Linked DNA regions of Homo sapiens: regions 2 and 3 are each linked to region 1. The links come from fine-mapping of genetic effects on gene expression. A gene starts in region 1. Each other region holds a variant in brackets. All regions are shown on one strand. Distances are between the middles of the regions. Region 1 holds the start of WARS1 (tryptophanyl-tRNA synthetase 1). Region 2 overlaps WARS1 (tryptophanyl-tRNA synthetase 1). Region 3 overlaps SLC25A47 (solute carrier family 25 member 47).

Region 1 (6,993 bases):
AACCATCATACACAATACATGGTTATCAATTAGTTCCCAGAAAGAAGTGCTTTGGTAATTTTTTACTTCTGTGCTGTTAGCACCAAGCACAATCCAGAGAAAAAGAAGGGTGCTAGGCACTCCTAGGACAGCAGAGGGCGCGGTGGAACAGCACAGAACGCTCAGGCAATAGACCGACTTCCAAGAAAACCCAGTGCACCCAACCTTAATCAAACACGCCAAGCTCCGCCTCCATCCCCCAACAGGTGGAGTCAGGTCAGCATCAACAGATTCCCTCCAAGTCCTTTTCTAAGTCATTCCAGACAGCCTATTACCCATCTCTTCTTCTAGACAATGGGTTTCTATGTCCCCTGGAATCAACCACCCAACCTCTTCCACACCTTTCCCCCAAGTGGCATCATTCGCCTGAGGGTTCCACTGGTCTACAAGTCAGGTCATCATTCCATAAATGTCTGTAGTCAGCCTCCTCTAGTAATGCCGCCCCCGTTCGCAGCCCATTCCAGGCAGGTAACAACTTCCACACGCAAAGCCAGAGTTTAAATAAAACGACCGGGCGCGGTGGCTCACGCCTGTAATCCTAGCACTGTAGGAGGCCGAGAAGGGCGGATTACCTGAGGTCGGGGGTTCAAGACCAGCCTGGCCAACATGGTGAAACCCCGTCTCTACTAAAAATACAAAAAAAAAAAAAATTTAGCCGTGTGCAGTGGTGCGCGCCTGTAATCCCAGCTACTCTGGAGGCTGAGGCCGCAGAATTGCTTGAACCCGGGAGGCGGAGGTTGCGGTGAGTGGAGATCACGCCACTGCACTCCAGCCTGGGCTACAGAGCGAGACTTGGTCTCAAAAAACAACAACAACAACAACAACTTCTAAAGCCAGCCAGCCAGCTCATCTCCAATGGAACTAATATAATATGAAAGACTAATTATAAACTAATGGAACCGTGCACTGCAAATAATTTGGCATTTCTGTTCTCTAAATGCTAAGCCTGGTCCCGAGGCCACTCTCAACTCCTCTGCCCAGGCACCACCCACCATGCACCCAGATTCCCACCACCAGGGTGCCCGTGCTCCCTCTGGAAGGAGATGAGGGATTAAACGAAGAGGAACAGACAGTAAGATGGAAGGGAAGGCAGGGACACTGGAGAAGAGTCTAAGGAAGGAGCGAGTGACTCTGACAGTCACTATCAGCAAGTCAGCCCCATGAGGACAGGACTTTCTGTGTTTTGTTCACTATTCAATGCCCAGCGTCTAAAAATATTTCTGGAATGCAAACGGGTGGGAGGGGGAGATGCTAGGAAGTAAAAGAAATAGGATATTCCCATTCAACAAACATTTCCTGATTACGTACTCTTTGTCAAGCCCTATGCTGGGTCTGGTGTGGGTGGAAATCAAACACAAAACACAGATCCCCCCGGAGGCCCCAGAGCGATGAAAGCAACAAACAAGATACGACCAGAGATGGGTTTTGAAGGATGAATAGGAGTTAGCTGAGCTGTCAATAGTAAGAAGTAAGGTTGGTCCAAGGCACAGCGCTTTCTGAAGGAACAGGAAGTGAAAGGAAGGCGAGCGGCTATGAGAGACCGCGTTAAGCGGCACGGGGCGCTTTAGGCGCTGCCCAGTCCCGGCCCCTCCAGCCCGGGGCCCGCCGCTCACCACACGCACCGGAAGCGCTCGGTTCTCCCGGAGGCAGACCGGCCAGCACACTACCATCCAGTCACGTTCCGACGCGACGCCGCGGCCGCCAGCCAATCAGTGGCGGCCTCTGCCCCGCCCCCGCGCGAACAGCCAATGACGGCGCCGTCGGGCCGGAAGTTGTTCCGTCCGGACGGCGTTTCCACGGACGCCCAGGAGACAGCCGGTTGCTGAGCCGGGAGCGCTGACTGGCCCGGCTGGGCAGGGTAAGCGAGGGGAGTAAGGCCGGGGCGGAGTGAGGAAACAAGGGAGGGAGTGATGGAGGGACGCTGGCGCGGCGCCCAGTGGCCTGGCCCTCCCGGGAGTATCCTTAGAGCCCGGCTTGCTGCCCGCCGCGTTCTGGCACTGTGAGGCGCGGAGCCTGCCACCGACCCCTCGCCCCTTTCCTCTGAGCGCCGCCGACCCACCCCGTCTCCCTTTCCCACTGGCACCCTTCATCGTCTCCGCCTGTTCGCTTTTCCCGAGGAGAGAGGCCCCCATTTTTATTTAGCGCCTGCCATGTGCCAGAGGCTTTGCGTAGTGTTGCACTTAGTCCCCTCAACGGTAATGTTAGCAGGCTTCTCCATGCCCATTCCACAGATGAGGAAACCGAAGGGGAAGCAGAAAAGTAATGCGACCCTTGCCCAAGGTTTCGAATAAGTCCAAGCTGGGATTGAAACCCAGGCGTCTGTGACCCCAGAACTCCTGATCTTTCCACTGCACTGTGCCGCCTCGGTGAACAGATGCGGGGAATTTACAGTTTCTCTTTCCACCGCCCACGACTACACAAAATCAGTCACACTGACGCTGAGGGTGGGGAACGGGAAGAGGGTGGGGAGGTTATTTGGAGGCCAGCGGGGGGTGAGGGGTGGCTGATGCAATGACCAGCTAATGGCTCGATTCTCAAGAGGGTTTCATTGGTCTCAACCTGGCCCCCCAGGCAACCCACCCCTGATTGGACAGTCTCATCAAGAAGGTTGGTCAAGAGCTCAAGTGTTTCTGAGAATCTGGGTGATTTATAAGAAACCCTTAGCTGAATGCAGGGTGGGGAGAACGAAAGACAAAAGCATCTTTTTTCAGAAGGGAAACTGAAAGAAAGAGGGGAAGAGTATTAAAGACCATTTCTGGCTGGGCAGGGCACTCTCAGCAGCTCAACTGCCCAGCGTGACCAGTGGCCACCTCTGCAGTGTCTTCCACAACCTGGGTATGTATTGCCATCTTTGCCAGGCTTAGAGCTTGTTCGTGTTTTTAGCAAAGTGCTGAAAACCTTGGTTTAGGGGGTCAGGACTTGTGTCTTAGGATTAGGGTGTTATGCATTTTACTTCTTCCATTGACCCAAAGTTCAGGTGATTCACTGCTCCCATAGGGAACAGAGATCCTGGCTGAGCAGTCGCGGGCTTGGATCCGTAGCTTGCCTCTCAGCACCGTCATGCTGTCTGTCATAATTTTCACTGATGCACCCTCCTTCTGTGCTCAACATCAGAACGTATTGTCATTCTTATTGTGACACCCAAAAGTGTCTCGTGCCTGGCTTCATAGAAATTAATGTCTTTGCCTTTTAAGATAATGTTCATGCTGTTATTTGGCGGGGAAAGCAATCTTTCTTTTAGTGTTTAAAAAAAATGGAACATGATGGGTCCCAAAAGGTGTCAAGAAATCCTTGCTCTAAAGAAGTCATTTTCTTGTCCTCTGGGAACTTGCCAGTCCAAAGGTATTGTCACCTACACTCTGGGGCCAAGATAGAAAGGATGGTATTCTACCTCCTGGTGGTATTCCAGGGATCCAGAAACACTCCTGGGCCACATTCTCTTCTCACCTGCTCCAGAATTGGCTGTCTTGATGCCACCCTTCCCCAGATTGCAGAATCAGCGTGCCCTGATCTCTGTGAGATGATTTTGATGCAACCCAAGTCTTTATCATGTTGTTCTGTTAAACAATTCTATAGTCCTTTCCACTCCTCATCCCAATACAATACCCAGTTTCTTTAAGTGCCTATTATGCTCCTCCACCACAGTGGAAACTTTCAGAATGAGCACAAGATTCAAGTTCTTGAAAAGGGGGAACTGGGGGTTAATTTTCAAGAGGCTTTTTAGCTTTCTCCTTGAAGGTCTGCTGTGATCTGCTGTGGAGTAGGCAGTTTTGCTCTTTACACGCCCAGTACTTTTGTTTAGGGAAGATAATAGAGTACTTCACTGGTTATAACTGCATTTCTTTGTTTCAGAGTGTACTATTTGTTAAACAGGTGAATCTACTTCTCTTAACAAAGTCTCAATGTCCTATTTGCAATTTATGTGGTAAACACTGAAGACAATGGTCCTTAACCTTTTGGCATCTCAGCCTCCTTTCGAAAGGTAAGAAAGCCAGGAGACTGCTCAAAACCATGTACATACCAATGTACTTGCAAGCATTAATGTAATTTCAGATGTTCCTGAACTCCAAGTTGAAAAACCTCTGAAGTTCAACTCAATTCTGAAAGTCAACAAAGAAATAAAGGAGGATGTCAATAGGTAGGGGGAAGAAGAACATTTACACAGGAAATGGGGTAAACTCATAAATGCGTGAAATGAGGAAGATGGTAGTTCCATTCTCCTTGTCTCTGACCACACAGAAAGTTGCATCATACACACACACACACACACACACACACACACACACACACACAAGATTTCAATAGTGTGGATGATTCCCACGCAAAGTATATGCCTTGTGATCATGATCATCTGCTATTTCCTCAGTCTAATTTCATTCCCATGTGCTTCTTAAATGGAGTTCTGATATTTATAGACACATGTTTTTCCCTGCAACATGGACCCTAAATGCAAGTCCTGTTTATCTAGCTGATCCTCTAGCAAAGAAACAGTTATCTATTCTATTGCAGTGGGAGATTGGCTGTCCTGGGATCACTCAGGCATTCTACCTGGCACTTTCCCCTGGAATTTTTAAGGATAATTTTTATACTTGATTGACTTCAAAACCTTACTGCTGCTGCCTTGTTGCCTTCACGCGGGGCACCACATTTTTTGGAAGGACAGGGTAAACCAAAAGGAATTCCAAAAATAGTGACCAGGATGGTGGGCAGATGTTAGCAGAGGGTGAAGAAAACAGACTAAGGTTGGGAGACCTGGAGGAGACCCCAAGAGACCAGCCTGGCTCTCCTTAGATGTGGGAAAGCTCAACTCAGTACCAGGACGTTAAACAAGAGGCCATCTAAAGTCCAGCTGGGGGAATCAGTCTTCAACTGGAACAAGTAAAGACATTCTAAGGATAAACCTTAGAGGAAAAAGTTGAACTAGATGACTAAGGAGATTCATTCATTAGGTAAATATTTTTTGATAAGCTGTGTGCCAGGTACTAGAGGTACATGGAAGAATAAACCCAGGGCTTACCTTTGCTGTCTGCTGGGGAAGACATGAATAACTAAACTGCAGTGTGAGTGCTTTCATAAAGTTACTAAAGGAGTGTTTGGGGATCACAAAGGATGGAGCAACCAACTTGTTCCCAGAAGCATAGGTGTCAGGAGAGGCTGTGAAGAGCTGAGGTTCAAATTGGAAAGATAATCAATCAGCAGAGTTCAGGCAGAGAAGGGTGTGAGACATTTCAGGCAGGCAGGCAGGCAGGCAGCAGGGAGCAGCAGGGATTCTGAGAGAGCACATGAGCAAGGGGGCTTGGGAATCAGATTCTGGCTTAGCTACTCCCTGGTAATGGAGCCATCAGCCTCTTGTCTGCTATTGCAGGGCACATAGAGTAACACCCAGCTTTGAGAGTTGGGAGAATTCAGGATAGGTTTCTGGACATGATGATTGATGATTTGTGGCTAGAAGTAATTTTCATGAGTTTGATCGTTATTTGATATGGACAGAGACCTTAGAGAGAAATGGATTTCGACTGATTTGCTCAGCTTGTTGCTGGGGAGGGAATGGGAGAGCCTGAGAGTTCTCTCTAGCCCTAGGCAGAGGGTACTCCGGCATTCCTCCCTAAACTGGATGCTTTCTTATCTGAGTCAGTTATCTCACCAAACCTCCCTTTCTGGGAACTGAGGTGGTTCTCATCAAGGAGGAGAAAGAAACTGGCTGCTGTCCTGTCCCGGTTTTCAGTATTATAGTTTCATTGAATTAAATAAGTTTTGATTTACATACTTTTTTTTCAATTTTTGTTTTTTTATTTTATAAAAATTTTTTGGAGAGACAGGGTCTCACTATCCATGTTACCTTTCACTCGTGTCACTCGTGTCCGTGTGAAGAGACCACCAAACAGGGTTTGTGTGAGCAACAAGGTTGTTTATTTCACCTGGCTGCAGGCGGGCTGAGTCCAAAAAGAGAGTCATGGAAGGGAGATAGGAGTGGGGCCGTTTTATAGGATTTGGGTAGGTAAAGGAAAGTTATAGTCAAAGGGGATTGTTCTCTGGCGGGCAGGTGGCAGGGGTCACAAGGTGATCAGCAGGGGAGCTTTTGAGCCAGGATGAGCAAGGAGAAGGAATTTCACAAGGGAATGTCATCAGTTAAGGCAGGAACAGGCCATTTTCACTTCTTTTGTGAAGGAATGTCATCAGTTAAGGCCATCTGGATGTGTACGTGCCGGTCACAGGGGATATGGTGGCTTAGCTTGGGCTCAGAGACCTGACATTACCCAAGCTGCTCTTGAACTCCTGAGCTCAAGCAATCGCCTCTGCTTCCCAAAGCACTTGGACTGCAGTTGTGAGCCACCGCTCACAGCACCCGTGATTTACATACTTTTTGGAATTTTTTTTGTTTTGAGACAGAGTCTCTCTCTGTTGCCCAGGTTGGAGTGCAGTGGCATGGTCTCAGCTCACTGCAACCTCTGCCTCCCAGGTTCAAGTGATTCTCATGCCTCAGCCTCCCAAGTAGCTGGGACTACAGGTACATGCCACCATGCCTGGCTAATTTTTGTATTTTTAGTGAAGATGGGGTTTCACCATGTGGGCCAGGCTGGTCTTGATCCACCCTCCTTGGCCTCCCAAAGTGCTGGGATTACAGGCATGAGTCACCACACCTGGCCTACTTTTTTTTTTTTTTTTTTTTGAGACAGAACCTTTCTGTCACCCAGGCTGGGGTGCAGTGGTGTGATCTCAGCTCACTGAAACCTCCACCTCCTGGTTTCAAGCAATTCTCCCACCTCAGCCTCCCAGGTATTTGGAACTACAGGTGTGCGCCACCATGCCCAGCTAATTTTTCTCTATTTTTAGTTGAGACGGGGTTTCACCATGTTGGCCAGGCTGGTCTCAAACTCCTGACCTCAGGTGATCCACCCACCTCAGCCTCCCAAAGTGCTGGGATTATAGGCGTGAGCCACCACACCCAGCCAA
Region 2 (6,993 bases), 25 kb after region 1:
GTTACACAGTTTCCTCAGTCTAGTTCTTTTAATCAGCCATTTAATAAACCAAAATATTTCATTCTGAAAATCCTTCAAGTTTCATCCCAAATGATTACCAAGAAATGTGTTAGAAAAATAAGACTTTGGTCAACCATCACAAGAAGGATACTATCTAGCTCAACAAATATTTCTTGAGCACCTGAGTTGTGGTACTCCCCTAAGGTGAGATACTCTTCTAAGTCATAGTACTCCCCTAAGGCGTGGTCTCTCCTAAGGCATGGTACTCCCCTAAGGCATGTTACTCCACTCCCCAAAGACGTGTTACTCCTCCCCTAAAGTGATTCCCCAGGAGGAGTGGGTTCATTGCTATGCTCCTGCAGCCCAGGCTGGGCTCTGAGCAGGCCCTCCCATGTTAGCTCACCATCAGGGACCATGCCGAGGCAGGATAAGAGGGACACTAAAGGGGCAGGTGAGCAGTGAGCACAGGAGGACTTGCTTAGAGCCGCATCCCCAGAACGTTCCCTCTTATAAGACCTTAAAACTGAGTAGTGGCAGCCAGGCGCGGTGGCTCATGCCTGTAATCCCAGCACTTTGGGAGGCTGAGGTGGGTGGATCACAAGGTCAGGAGGTCAGGAGTTCGAGACCAGCCTGGCCAATATGGTGAAACCCCATCTCTACTAAAAACACAAAAATTAGCCGGGTGTGGTGGCGTGCTCCTGTAGTTGCAGCTACTTGGGAGGCTGAGGCAGAAGAATCGCTTGAACCTGGGAGGCGGAGGTTGCAGTGAGCCGAGATCATGCCACTGCATTCCAGCCTGGGCAACAGAGTGAGACTCTGTCTCAAAAAAAAAAAAAAAAAAAAAGAAAGAAACTGAGTAGTGGTTTTATATCCATTGAGAGCAATGTATACCCTGATAGGAAATCTCGCCCTTCTATCAGCCAGTAAAACTGTTAGCTTTTTCTTTTTCTTTTTTTTTTTGAGACGGAGTCTCGCTCTGTCACCCAGGCTGGAGTGCAGTGGCACAATCTCGGCTCACTGCAAGCTCCGCCTCTCAGGTTCACACCATTCTCTTGCCTCAGCCTCCCAAGTAGCTGGGACTACAGGTGCCCGCCACCATGTCCGGCTAATTTTTTGTATTTTTAGTAGAGACGGGGTTTCACTGTGTTAGCCAGGATGGTCTCGATCTTCTGACCTCATGATCTGCCTGCCTCGGCCTCCCAAAGCACTGGGATTACAGGCATGAGCCACCACGCCCAGCACCTATTAGATCTTTTAAAATTACTTCTCTTGGTTCAGCCATGTGAGCATGGAGGCCCTGTGGCATCCTTGAAGGAAGGAAAATAGACAGGGATCCAGATCCTGGCACCTGGGTTTAGTGGCTGTGTGTCATAGCAGCCGTGTCCATGAAATGGGATCAAACAAGAACATAGATGTCATCATTAGCATAATTTTCTTTTTTTTTTTTTTTTTTGAGACAGAGTCTCACTCATGGGTTTTGCCATGTTGGCCAGGCTGGTCTTGAACTCCTGACCTCAAGTGATCCTCCCCGCCTCAGCCTCCCAAAGTGCTGCGATTACAGGTGTGAGCCACCATGCCCAGCCGTGTTAGTATAATTTTCATGGCACTTTATTTCCTTATTCTCACCCCATTCCATACAATGATTCAACTGATTGAACCTCTGCAGAGACAACTGTGGGTTCTGCTTCTCCTTTTCCAGTCAGGCAGTGCTGCTGGCATTGCCCAGTAGCTGCTATCCTCTTCCCACACCACCACTGCCCCCACCAGCCAGTGATCTCCCTAAAACTCAGAGCTAATCTCATCTTCCACTTGCGGGTCTTTCCCAGCTCTCCTCCTTAGATGACATTGAGAATTCTCACCTTTCACTTGGCACACGAGCCCTTTCGTGATTGGCCCTGTGTTCCTCTCCAGCGTCACTGCTACCTCCAGCTCAGTGGAACAGCTTGCAGTTCCACATCCTTCTCCTTTGTACATGCTCTGTGCTGCCCAGAATTCCCACCCACTCTCCTGACCCTGCCACCCCCAGCTTAGCTAATTCCTACACTTTCTTCCAAAGGCATGATCAAGCATCACCTTTTCCTAGGAGCTTTCCCTCCCCACAGCCAAATTTAGATGCCCCTCTCTGGTCCTCCATCAGGCTGGGCCTTACCTCTGCCACATCTGGTACAGTGTGGCCCTCTCCCCACTAGCTGAGTAAGACACATAGTTCCTGAATTTGTGCTCTCTGTGGCCCATCCCCTCCTGGGCCCCACAGACACAGCAGAAGCAAAGCTGAGCCGCTTCGTTGATGGATATAAATGCTGGTGGTGAGACAAGAGCAAGTGCCTATAATAGTCCATGAAGCTGATTCAGCCAATAGATGCACGATGGGGTAGATGAACTTTTGAACAGTCCATGTGAAAAGACCACCACCTGAGCAACCCCACTTTCAGCGCTCTCTGAACGTGGAGTGAGGCCGCCATTCCTCGTGCTGTCTCTTTGGCAACTGCGGTTGCAGCTCCTGACCAGCCTCCACC[T/C]TCGCTAAATAAGAACTTCCTTTTTTTTTTTTTTTTTCTTTTTTTGAGATGGAGTCTTGCTCTGTCGCCCAAACTGGAGAGCAGTGGCATGATCTCGGCTTACTGCAATATCTGCCTCCTGGGTTCAAGCAATTCTCATGCCTCAGCCTCCTGAGTAGCTGGGATTACAGGCGCCCGCCACCACACCCAGCTAATTTTTGTATTTTTAGTAGAAACGGAGTTTCACCATGTTGGCCAGGCTGGTCTCGAACGACCTCAAGTGATCCACCCGCCTCGACCACCCAAAGTGCTGGGATGCGTGAGCCACTGCACCTGGTCGGGAACTTCCTTTTTTCTTACAAACATGGGGTAAAGATGAAACCCAGACAGTATGTCAACCAAAAGGGTCGATGATATCTTTTCTTGAAAGGCATTTTATATTGAACCTAAAGTGAGGAGAGACATTTTAAAGGGTAAATCCTCTATTCAAACATTTTACTTTAAGAGTTTCTTCTAAACATTTGAGCATTTTACTTTTCTTTCTTGAATTTAACTCAAAATCTATATCTTTGGCTTAATAAAGCTCCTTCCTGGTGTTTAGGAGCTGGAAATTCAACAAAGCCAGCCATCGCCCTCTTTGAGTGGGAGGGAGGTGGTGAGGCCTCCATGAGGGAGGAGGCCAGTGCAGTTCCCCCTGCACATTGCACATGGCCCCAGAACGGCCTTCCTGCCCAGGGCCCTGAGGGATGCAAAGGCACTGAGCTGGGAGTCTGAAAACTTGTGTTCCAGACCCAGCTCTGCCCCTGCCTGGTCTTGTTCCCTTGGGCAAGTCCTTAAATCTCTGAGCTTCCATGTTCCTGTGAGGAAGGGAGCTGGGTGCTAGTGGGGGGCAGCATAGCAGAGGTTGCAAGTGCTCTGCTTGACGGCCGTCCGCTGTGTGGCCTGGGCATGGGAGGAGCCTTCCACTGTGTGGCCCGGGCATGGGAGGAGCTCCTCTCTGCCTGCTTTCTTCACTCTGCTCCTTTGTTCTACAAATATTTATTGGACATCTGCTATATGCCAGACTCATGGTGGGGGTACAGCAGGGAGCAAAACCATTATCTCAGCAGCTGTGTAAAGCCTCTCTTCTAATGGGGAGAATCAGCTAACAGGTGATCAATCAGGTGATAATAAGTTCTATGGTGATAATAGGGACAAAGGGCAGGGGTAGAGAAGACTGTGGTCAGGAGATGATAGTGCCTGCACTGCATATAAAGTGCTTCAAGCCACGCCTGGCACCTGGGGAGTGCTCAGTAAATGTTGTAATCTAAAATCTCTTCCCACTTTAAACCCTGTCTGAGAGTGAAAAGCAGGTGCCCTCCCTGGGGTAACTGGTGGTTCAGCCACATGTGATATACAGTTAGGTGTGTTCACTGCAGCCAGTGAGAAGCCTCCATGTGCCGGCACTGGCATGGCTGCTTTGCGTGATGGGTCCGTCCCAGCTGTGCAGGGGGACAGCCGTCCCTTGAGGGGAGGATCACACGTGCTCACGGTGCAGCACCTGCATTCACCCTGCAGCCAGCACAGTGGCAGCAGCTTGCAGCAAGTAATGACCAGTCTTCTAAGAAAGGGCAGCGTGCTCTAACTCAGAAATACCAGTCAGACGCCGTGAAGCTACAGTCCTGCCACAGTTTGGGGGTACTGGAGACTTTCCCTCCTTGTAGGGGTTAGGGTGTCCCAGGTGCCTCAATCCCAAGGGCGCATGGAGTCTTTGCTGCAGCCCATCTCCCCAGGTGACAGACAGCTGCTGTCCTTACTGGCTGTGAGTCCTGCTGCGGTGCCCAGGAGGGACCCTCCCTGCCTGCGGTGTTCTTGGCTTGCTTGGCAGGAGGACAAAGGCCGCATCTTTCCAGGCAGTGCTGCTGTTGGCTGTGCTCTTGCTCTCTGTTGTTTCCATTGTGCTGAGTGGGTGACACAGATGCTGGGTTCTCCTGGCATGCCCCTTCACAGTACTGCGCCCGCCCTCTCCAGTGCCCCCCAGGGCCTGAAACTCAGCCGGCTGCTAGGCGAAAGACACAGTCCATCCCTCACGTGCTGCCTCTGCTCAACCTGGACAGGCCTTGGCACTGACCTTGACCGTTACAGGCCTCCCAGCATTGTGCTTCGCCCAGCACAAACGGCCAGTGTTCCTGCACTCCTGACACCCCACCCCACCTGCACAAAGACATTCAGTAGTTCTCCACCCTGCCCCAAAAGTCTAAACTCTTCTAAAGGATAAGATGTGGTGAGAAAAGCATAGGCTTTGGGGCCAGGTGAATCTGTGTTGGGATCCCAGCCCCTGTACTCACTGGGCCTGTGACTATGACCCTGAACTTCTTTGAGCCTAGTCTAACTGTAAGGTGGAGGCAATGCTACTACTTTGAAGGGGATTTTAGGAGTATTGACACATACGCAGCATCTAGCACAGCTCCTGCCACATGGTGCAAACACTTAAAAGACACCAGCCTTCCCCCTTTTCCCTCGTAGTGTCTAACACATGGTAGGGCCTAGAGAAAAAGCTACTGAATATAGTAATACAAAGATGCAATATAAGAAGCCACTTGGCTGGGCGCGGTGGCTCACACCTGTAATCCCAGCACTTTGGGAGGCCAAGGCAGGTGGATCACCTGAGGTCAGGAGTTTGAGACCAGCCTGGACAACATGGTGAAACCCCATCTCTACTAAAAATACAAAAATTAGCCAGGCATGGTGGCGAGCAGCTGTAATCCCAGCTACTCAGGAGGCTGAGGCAGGAGAATTGCTTGAACCCAAGAGATGGAGGTTGCAGTGAGCCAAGATCATGCCACTGCACTCCAGCCTGGGCTACAGAGTGAGACTCTGTCTCAAAACAAAAAAAAAGAAGCCACTCTGGGTTCTGCCAAACCCCTACACCCCACTGTGTTTGCTTCTTCTTCAGCCTAGTTCCTTCTGGTAGTGGAATGGATGCCACACATTCAGGCCTGGTACCCACACCCCTCACCATCCAGAAGAGAGAGTTGGGTTGCTTGAATCAGCCACTGTGGCCTAGCCCTGTTGCTGTGGATAGGGTTAGTTCTGCCCAAACAGCAGGGGGGAGCAGTGGCCAGAGACTAGGAGGACCAGCTGCACTGAAACAGGCCTTCCTCCTTCTCGGGCCGTGGGTTTCTATCCATACGCTCATCCGACAACAAGCAGATGGTCTCCCACAACACAGTATGTCTCAGCTAAGAAGCTCCTGGGGGCTCCCAGACTTGAGCTCCACAGCCCACTGAACTGCTGACCCTGGCAGAATTTAAATTTTTCATGCTAGCTGCAAGTCTCTGAATCTGCTTGTGTTCTTGCCTTGTTTGTATGTCTGCTTCACGTCGGTTTCACACTGGTTTCTGCCTTTCCCAGTCAACTCCACAGGTAAACGTGTGTCTGCTTTGCCTGATGCAGGTATCTTTGCCTACAGATGACTTCCTGGCACCTTCCCAGTGCTTACGTGTTGACCACAATGTGGCCCCGAGTCTGGCCCATGCCACTACTCATTGGCATCCAATTTTAATAACTGTGACTTTGCCTTCAGTGAAGGCCGCCCTCCGTTTGGGATTTCATTCTCGTTGTCTTTGCAGGATGAGCTCAGGTTTCTACAAAAATGTGGTGAAGATTCAAAAGCATGTTACCTTCAACCAAGTGAAAGGCATTTTCGGCTTCACTGACAGCGACTGCATTGGTAAGAGGCCCACTGCTGCTGTGGACCACTCCCTGCACCCTTCAAAAAGGAGCAGAGTTCTGGAGGAGACACATGCCTGGTTTAAATATCTCTGAGATGTTAGCGTTTGCAACTGTCTCTTTAAGTAGGATGCCCAGGCGTGGGTGGGTCATCGTTGTCCTGGAATCTGACTAGCTAGTGTAATGCATTGAGCAGCTTCTCTGGGTTGGGTGAAGCTGCACTTCAGGATGTGAGTCTGTCCCTCTCTTGTCACCCGTCTTAAGGTTTAGAAGAAAGAAAAATCTAAGGATGACTTTGGAGTTCCAACAGCTCTGGTGGGACCCCAGTCAGTGTAGGGTGGCCTTGGATGGAACCCAGGGGTGATGAAGAAGGACAGCTGGGTCTGCTGCCCATGAGAGGGCCTTTGAGTCTTTGTCTCCCTGGGCCTCAGTGTCCCCACATGTAAGATGAGGGGCTTGACACGAGGTCTTCTGGAGCCTTCCCACCCCTGCCCTGCTCTCCTTCCATGGCTCCACCCCAGCAGATGTGCAAATGGTTTGCCTCCCACGTGCATGCCTTCATGGCCCTCTCCATAAATTTCCATGTGTCTTTCAGATGCATTGGCTTCGTAGACTTTTAGACTTTTGGTCCTTGAGACTTGTGGCTGGGCCTTCTGATCCCCTCCTCTACTTGATGTTTGGTGCGTGGCTTCAGGCATAGCAGGCCCTTGAGGCCTTCAGTCAGCTGCCAGCCGAGCCAGCTCCCTGGGATGCGCTGCCGGGGCTCTCCGTGAGGAGCGTTCACCCT
Region 3 (6,993 bases), 45 kb after region 1:
CACCGGCTGTGTGACTCTGGCCAGGTCACTTAACCTCCCAGGACCTCCATCTCCTCCCCTGTAAAAAGCAGTGATGCCTCCTGTTTAGGGTCTTAGGAGGGGTGCCCTGGGTCCAATACTCAGGTGACTTGCCCAAGGCCACTGCTGGTCAGGACACAGGGGAGCCACATGTCTCCCAAGCCTCCCCAGTTTTGCTAAAAACCAGTGGTTTCTGAGAGAAATGTTCCCTGAAAGACATGGGCGTGTCTGGATTAGGATGGACAGGTTGCAGTGGCCCCATGAGTGTTTGGGGATGAGGCATGAGGCCGGGTGCCTGCACCACCGTGGTGCCAGAGGCTCTGCCGGAAGAGCACTCCTGCTCTGGCTGGTAATGTCCACTTGTCAGACAGATGTGGGGCCAACCCAGCTCAGTCTCTCTGTCCCGTGGCCCCCAGCCTGGAGGAGAGACCAGCTGAGCCTGCCTGAAAGGAGATGGTGCCTGAGAAGCACACAAAACAGCACTGGGTGGGGAAGCAGGGACAGGAAGGAGGGTGGCTGAGCACACGGGTGGCTGTGGAACAGCTCGTTGCTCCAGGACGGCACTTGGCAAGCAACAGGCCTGCCTCTGGCCCCCAGTGCCCGCCTGCAGCACCAGCAGATGTGCCCTCCCCAGGGTCACACTGGCTGGGCCTTGAGGCCCAGGACTCTCTGGTCATTACCATAGAGGTTGTAAAGACAGTGAGGACAGCCAGACGCGGTGGCTTACACCTGTAATCCCAGGCTGAGGCGGGCAGATCACGAGGTCAGGAGATCGAGACCATCCTGGCTAACACGGTAAAACCCCATCTCTACTAAAAATACAAAAAGAAATTAGCCAGGCGTGGTGGTGGGCACCCGTAGTCCCAGCTACTCGGGAGGCTGAGACAGGAGAATGGCGTGAACACAGGAGACAGAGCTTGCAGTGAGCCAAGCCGAGATCGCGCCACTGCACTCCAGCCTGGGCGACAGAGCGAGACTCCGTCTCAAAAAAAAAAAAAAAACAGTGAGGACAGAGGCCTTTCCTGCAAACCCCCTCCCCAGTGACACGCAGAGCCAGCTGCTCAGTGACACGGGCTCAGGGAGAGCCAAAGGCCCCCACCTCCCAGAGTGCAGCCACTGCCAGAGCCGGGCCAGGAGTGCTGCCAGGAACCCTCCTGCCAAGGCCGAACAGGTGGGGTCTTCTCGACAAAAACGGTCCCGGGGTCAGTGTTTGATGAGCCATGGAAACCTGTCAGCGCCTGCCCTTTCCCGGCATTCGGCCACAACATCTCAGCCTCTGCAACTCCTAAGCTGGACACACTTCCTGGAATCTACTGCAGGACTTATTCATTCATTCATTCATTCATTCACTCGCTCATTCATCCCACACCCCCTACTATGCAGCAGCCCTGGAGCTAGATGGAGTCCTTGCACAGCCCGCAGGCTCTTGTGGCCGGGGAGAGGCAGATGAGTGACCACACACCCAACCAGGTCCCCAAGGGAGCAGAGCAAGAGATGCTTGGGAGCAGCCCAGTGGTCAGGCAAGGAGAGCTTCCTGGAGGAGGTGGCGCCTGGGGTGTGGAGCCAGCCAGGCAGAGCAGTAGGAGGGTATTCCTGGCAGAGGGCACAGGGCATAAGGTCAGGTGCCCACAGCACCACACATATGGGGACTGGCGTAACAAGAGGGGTTCCACCCCTTACTCTGGGAGCAGAAGAATTTTGTTCGGCAGAACACAGGACAGCGTTCAGTCCACAGACACAGTCAAGGTCAGTGTCCATGAGTGAATATAGTCAATGCAGGTGGCCTCTGGCCCTGCCAGAGGGCTGCTGTGGTGGAGACCCGGTGGCTTCACGCTGGACCTGCCAGCCCTAGCCCCTGATAGCCCCCATCATTGGAAGCCACATGATGCCAGGAGGGGGGGTGCTGGAGCCTCAGAAGCACTGGCTGCAGTCCACCCACCCCTCCCTGATGCGTGACGGCAGGCAAGGCCCCCTCCCTCTTGGAGCTGTCAGGTGGCTGTGGTGAGCTGTGCAAGGCACCTGGCGCCCTCCCACGGGCAGCCCCCTCTGGAAGGGGAGCTCACATTCAGGGCAGGTGGGAGGGCCTGGCTGGAACCAGCTTTCGCTCAGAAAGCGGGTGGGTTTGGGATAGGGTGGTGAGGACAGTAAGTACCCTGCTAAACAGCCCCCTGCGGCAGGACTCAGCACCATAGGCTAGGCCCCACAGCCCAGAAGGCCGAGAGAGTGGAGCCCGCCAGAGTGCCAGGCGGGGTTTCAGTGTGGCCATCTGCACAGTGGGAGCACCAGCAGCTCAGGTTTCGAGGGCTCATCCAGCAGGAAGGGAGCAGGACAGGGCCACAGCCCCACACCTCCCAGGACGGGTGGGCAGGCCTCACAGGGTGCAAAGCTGCTGGGGGCAGGGAACAGTCAGCCCACGGCCATGGAGCCACAGCCCTGAACATCCTCAGAAACATTTTATTGACAACAGTTCCCAACAGAGTCTTTGGGGTCTTTAAGTGGCAGGTGCAGCGTCCACAGGCAGAGTGAGGGCTCCTGAGGAACCTCACCCCAAATTCCCTAACCGGCCGAGGACGGCCACCCCAGGCCCCTCTCAGGTGGGCATGGCAGTCCCGGCAGCACCCCCTCTGAGCAGCCTGCTGTGGGGAAGAAGCCGAGCCGGGAGCCCTCAGTCGTGGTGCCAGCCCAGCTCATGCTCCCCGCCCCGAGGCCCCCAGCCTGTGGGAAGCCCCTGCCTGTAAGGGACAGCTCGTGAAGACACAGGAACAGTGGTGGGGGTGAGGGTCTAGGAATGGGGCAGAGGGTGGCTGAGCACACACCTGACTCCCTGGAGGGGTGCTTCAAAGACATGGGAGGCGAGGGCCATGGGGAGGCTGGGATGAACAACCGACTCCATGCAACTCAACGCTCTCATCAAAGAGGCCCACTCCTCCCTGGCTCCTGCCACCCTAGGCCAACCCTGGCTGATGGCTGGCGGGCCCCTCGACCTGAGGTCAGTAGCTGGGCAGGGCGAGCTCAGGCCTCGGCCGACAACACTGCAGGGAGGCTCCTCATTCTCCTGGGCAATGGCCCTGTGGGGTCCCGAACCCAGCCACACTACCCCTTGCCTCCTCCAGCCACTACGACCTCCAGCAGCTGCTGGTGGGTGGGCCGCTGGGCGTGGGGACCGGCTATGTGAGCAGACCCCGGGCGAGCCTCAGCACTGCCTCATAGGCGACGAAGACCACCATGTTGACAGGGAAGGCGCGGCAGCAATTGAGTACCAGCCCCTTGAAAAGGACCCGGGGTCCCTCCTCTCGAACGCTGGTCACCATACAGTGCAGGAGACCCCGGTAGCGCCTCTGGCCCTGCCCGTCTGCCTGCAGTCTCGACTTGATCACGTCCATGGGGGTGGCCACAGCCCAGGCCAGGACTCCTGCACAGCCCCCGGCCACCAGCACGCCCGGGACATCTGCAGAGAGACCACAGTGCCTTGACTGGGAGCCTGATCGGGGCGCCCAGGGCAGCGCACCCTGGACTCACGCTTCCGGCCCGTCCTCATTTGCAACAGGCTTGGGAGAGGGGAATGGGACTTGTCCACAACCACACACTGACTCTGTGACACAGCAAGTCTGTCCTGACTCTTGGTGTTGGGAGAACTGAGGAGCCCACTCTGGGAGGCAGGAGGCCAAGTTCAAGCCCCCACTCGGGTACTGGCGGGCAGCACGACCTCACCTTGACCTCCTCATCCTTCTGGGCTCCCCGCCCTGCCAGGTTCCAGCCCCTGCTCACCTGGCCGGCTGTGGCCAGCGGGGCTGAGCCACTCGCAGAGGAC[C/G]GCGTAGGAAAGGAAGTAGGTGGCAAAGGAGTGGCCGTCCCGTAAGACCAGGGCCGAGCTGCCCTTGTAGAGGCCGCACAGCCCCTCCTCACGGGCTACCGTGGCCAGGCAGTGCAGTGGCCCGCGGTACTTGGGCTCTGGGCAGGCTGGGGGCACAGGACACATGGGGGGCACAGCCAACGGCCCCGAGGCCGAAAGCCGCCGCTGCTGCTTCTGCGCCTGTGTCTGCGTCTGCAAGCGGACTTTGGCCACCTCAGTGGGCGACGTCAGGAACACCTGGAGCAGAGAAGGAAGCAGGGGTCAGCCACCTGTGGCTCTGCCCACAGCCTGGACCTGGCCTCCCACCAGCCTCATGTTGCTCACGGTGACCTCAGGAGGTTGGGCCCCGAGACCCTGCAGGCTGGCCCAGGGCTGGGGGGCCACGGGGCCCAAAGCCAGCTCCGCCCACCCAATGCCAAAGCCCATGCTTCCTCGGCAGCCACATCTCTCCCAGGCCAGCCTGCCAGGCTTCTCCTGGGACGTGTAAGATAATTTCCATGACCCAGGTTCAAGAACGTATTTAGTAACATATCAGCAATAAAATAATACCATGGCCAGGCGCAGCGGCTCACGCCTGTAATCCCAGCACTTTGGGAGGTCAAGGCAGGCGGATCACGAGATCAGGAGTTTGAGACCAGCCTGGCCAATATGGGTGAAACCCCATCTCTACTAAAAATACAAAAATTAGCCGGGCTTGGTGGCGCGTGCCTGTAGTCCCAGCTACTCAGGAGGCTGAGGCAGGAGAATTGCTTGAACCTGGGACGTAGAGGTTGTAGTGAGCGGAGATGGTGCCACTAAACACTGGCCTGGGTAACCGAGCAAGACTCTGTCTCAAAAAAAAAAAAAAAAATCACTAGACATACTGGCTGCCACTTTGTGGGTACTCATTCATGTCGGACTCCACATATGTGTGCTGGGGGCTTTACCCTCATGATTTCACTAAATTCTCATCATGCCTCTTACAGATGGAGAGACAGAAGCTCCAAGAGTCTCCCTTGCTTGCCCAAGGTTGCTCAGCTCATGAGGGTCAGAGCTGAGAGCTGGGCCTGGTGGTCTGGACCCCTGGGCCAGGCCTTCAGCTGCTGGGCTGCTCCAGCTGGCTCCGTGCTGTCACCAAGTGCGAAAGTCTGTCTCCCCTGCGGGAGCAAGGGCTCCCTGAGGGCAGGCGGGCACCGCAGGTGCTCCATGCACAGTTGAGGATGGAGAAATGCCCACATCCAGCAATGGCCGACTGTGTTCAGGCATCTCCGTGCCTGGAGCCATGAGTGCCCGGGGCCTGCCTATTCAGCTCCCCATGGTGGCTTCTAGGTGACCTTCTGACCGTGACAGGGAGAGTCCCTTTGGTCACAGCCCCCTTCCTGAGGGGGCCGTGCTGGGCAGGACAGCAGCGACCCCCTCATCTGTGTGCTGCTGAGGGGTTCCAGGCCCAGCCTAGGCGGGATGCGAGTTCTTCTCCCACAGCCCCTGACTCCATGCATGGCCTCCAGTGTCTGCCCTCATCAAGCCTCAGTTTCCCCACCTGCCAGGATGGATAACCTCTCAGACCCCGCAGTCTCTCTTGGGCCTTCCCCACCCTGGCTGCCCCTACTCACGCGGACGAGGCCGGAGGCGCATCCCGAGAGCGTGATGTCGGCCTTGGTGGGCTTGGCGTCAGGGTTGCCGTACCGGAGCCGGCAGATGTGCGCCAGGCAGTGGCGGTAGGTGCCAAAAGACACGGAAGATACCAGGGACACCGTGCACACGGGCAGCGAGAGGCCCCGGTAGAAGCCCCACACCTAGCAGACAGGATCCAGGTCAGGCTAGGGCCCCGCCAGGAGGAGGAGCCACCCGAGGGAGCCCACACTCAGCCCTGCTCCGCACTCCGCTGTCGGACCTCGGGAAGGTCATTCACGGCCTCAGGGCCTCAGTTTCCTCTGCTGTAAGATGGAGGTCACAAGGGGGGACCTGAAGAGCCAGAGGACCAGGCCCAACCCAGCCCAGCTGCTTGATGACGATGAACTTTTTTTTTTTGCCCAGGCTGGAGTGCAGTGGCACGATCTTAACTCACTGCAACCTCCGCATCCCAGGTTCAAGCGATTCTCCTGCCTCAGCCTCCTGAGCCACTGCGATTACAGGTGCCTGCCACCACCTCCAGCTAATTTTTGTATTTTTAGTAGAGACGGGGTTTCACCATGTTGGCAAGGCTTGTCTTGAACTCCTGACCACAGGTGATCTGCCTGCTTCGGCCTCCCAAAGTGCTGGGATTACAGGCGTAAGCCACCGCTCCTGGCCTGACAATGAACTAGTAACAGCATGTTCTGCCACTGCTGCTTTCACAAACTAGCCCCTGGCCTGCACCAAGCCCCAAGTCCACGTAGGAGAATGTCGCCAAGTACTGCTCCGGACAGGTCTCTGAGCTAGACCCTAAAGACTCCACCCAACACTGCCTTCAAGGGGTGCCTGGCCTGGAGGAGACAGAAATGCAGTGCATGGGTCCCTCCTCCGACTTTCAAAGACCTGAACGCTACCTCTAGACCCTCTGCTGGAGGTGGGAACCTCCTTCTGAGGCCCCTCTAGCTGCCAGATGTCCTGGCTCCAGACCTCAGAGGAACCCATGAGATTGGCAGAACTATTCCCATGTGGAAGGTGAGAGAGCTGAGACCCAGCGGGGAGCCTGGCATCACCTGCTGGGCAGCGGAGGCAGGCCCAGCATCCCCTCCCTGTCTCCCTACCCAGCCCCTGGCCCCAGACCTACGCGCTCTCGGTGATACGTATCCCGGACGCAGTGCCAGATGCCTGTGTACTTTGGCTCCGTCTGGATCCTGACCTGCAGGAGAAGTGGGCTTCAGGCACGAGCGGCTCCAGGCCTAGGGCAAGGCCAGCAGGCCCTGGGGAAGGGGCAGAGTCACACTCTTGATTGTCCCAGCCATGCTGGACGGTGGCACAGCAGGGACAGGGAGCCTTGTGTTAGACGAGAAACCTGGGGCACAGGGGTGAGAAAGTGGGACTGACATAGTCCCAGGGGCTATGGGGAGCCATTGAAGGCATTTGGGTAGGAAAGGGGTGGGTCTGTTTAGCATTCTAGAAAAGTCTCCTGGCCGTGGACAGGTGCAGGGGCCTTAGGATGGTTGGGGGGCTGGCTATTG

The links. PIP is the estimated chance that this variant, and not a neighbour inherited with it, causes the effect.
Region 2: its variant is the best candidate, but not a certain one, in a credible set for the expression of WARS1 in whole blood (TOPMed, PIP 0.66).
Region 3: its variant is the best candidate, but not a certain one, in a credible set for the expression of WARS1 in monocytes after Pam3CSK4 (Quach 2016, PIP 0.70).

The regions. Positions count from the first base shown.
Region 1 is chr14:100,371,164-100,378,156 of GRCh38, reverse strand. WARS1 (tryptophanyl-tRNA synthetase 1) reads left to right here and starts at 2,810. Exons shown (of 11, transcript NM_004184.4): 1 at 2,810-2,874. It overlaps WDR25 (WD repeat domain 25), which reads right to left and starts at 1,672. Exons shown (of 7, transcript NM_001161476.3): 1 at 1,662-1,672. RefSeq lists silencers at 1,539-1,588, 1,779-1,838 and enhancers at 2,349-2,708, 2,719-2,858, 5,981-6,897.
Region 2 is chr14:100,345,960-100,352,952 of GRCh38, reverse strand. WARS1 (tryptophanyl-tRNA synthetase 1) reads left to right here. Exons shown (of 11, transcript NM_004184.4): 7 at 6,107-6,207. Among named protein-coding and RNA genes, the nearest start is that of WARS1, 26 kb to the left of the region's middle. The variant T/C (reference allele first, on the strand shown) is at 2,517.
Region 3 is chr14:100,325,838-100,332,830 of GRCh38, reverse strand. It overlaps SLC25A47 (solute carrier family 25 member 47), which reads right to left. Exons shown (of 6, transcript NM_207117.4): 3 at 6,603-6,674; 4 at 5,461-5,643; 5 at 3,787-4,105; 6 at 2,410-3,466. The coding sequence ends at 3,186. Among named protein-coding and RNA genes, the nearest start is that of SLC25A47, 6.0 kb to the right of the region's middle. The variant C/G (reference allele first, on the strand shown) is at 3,830.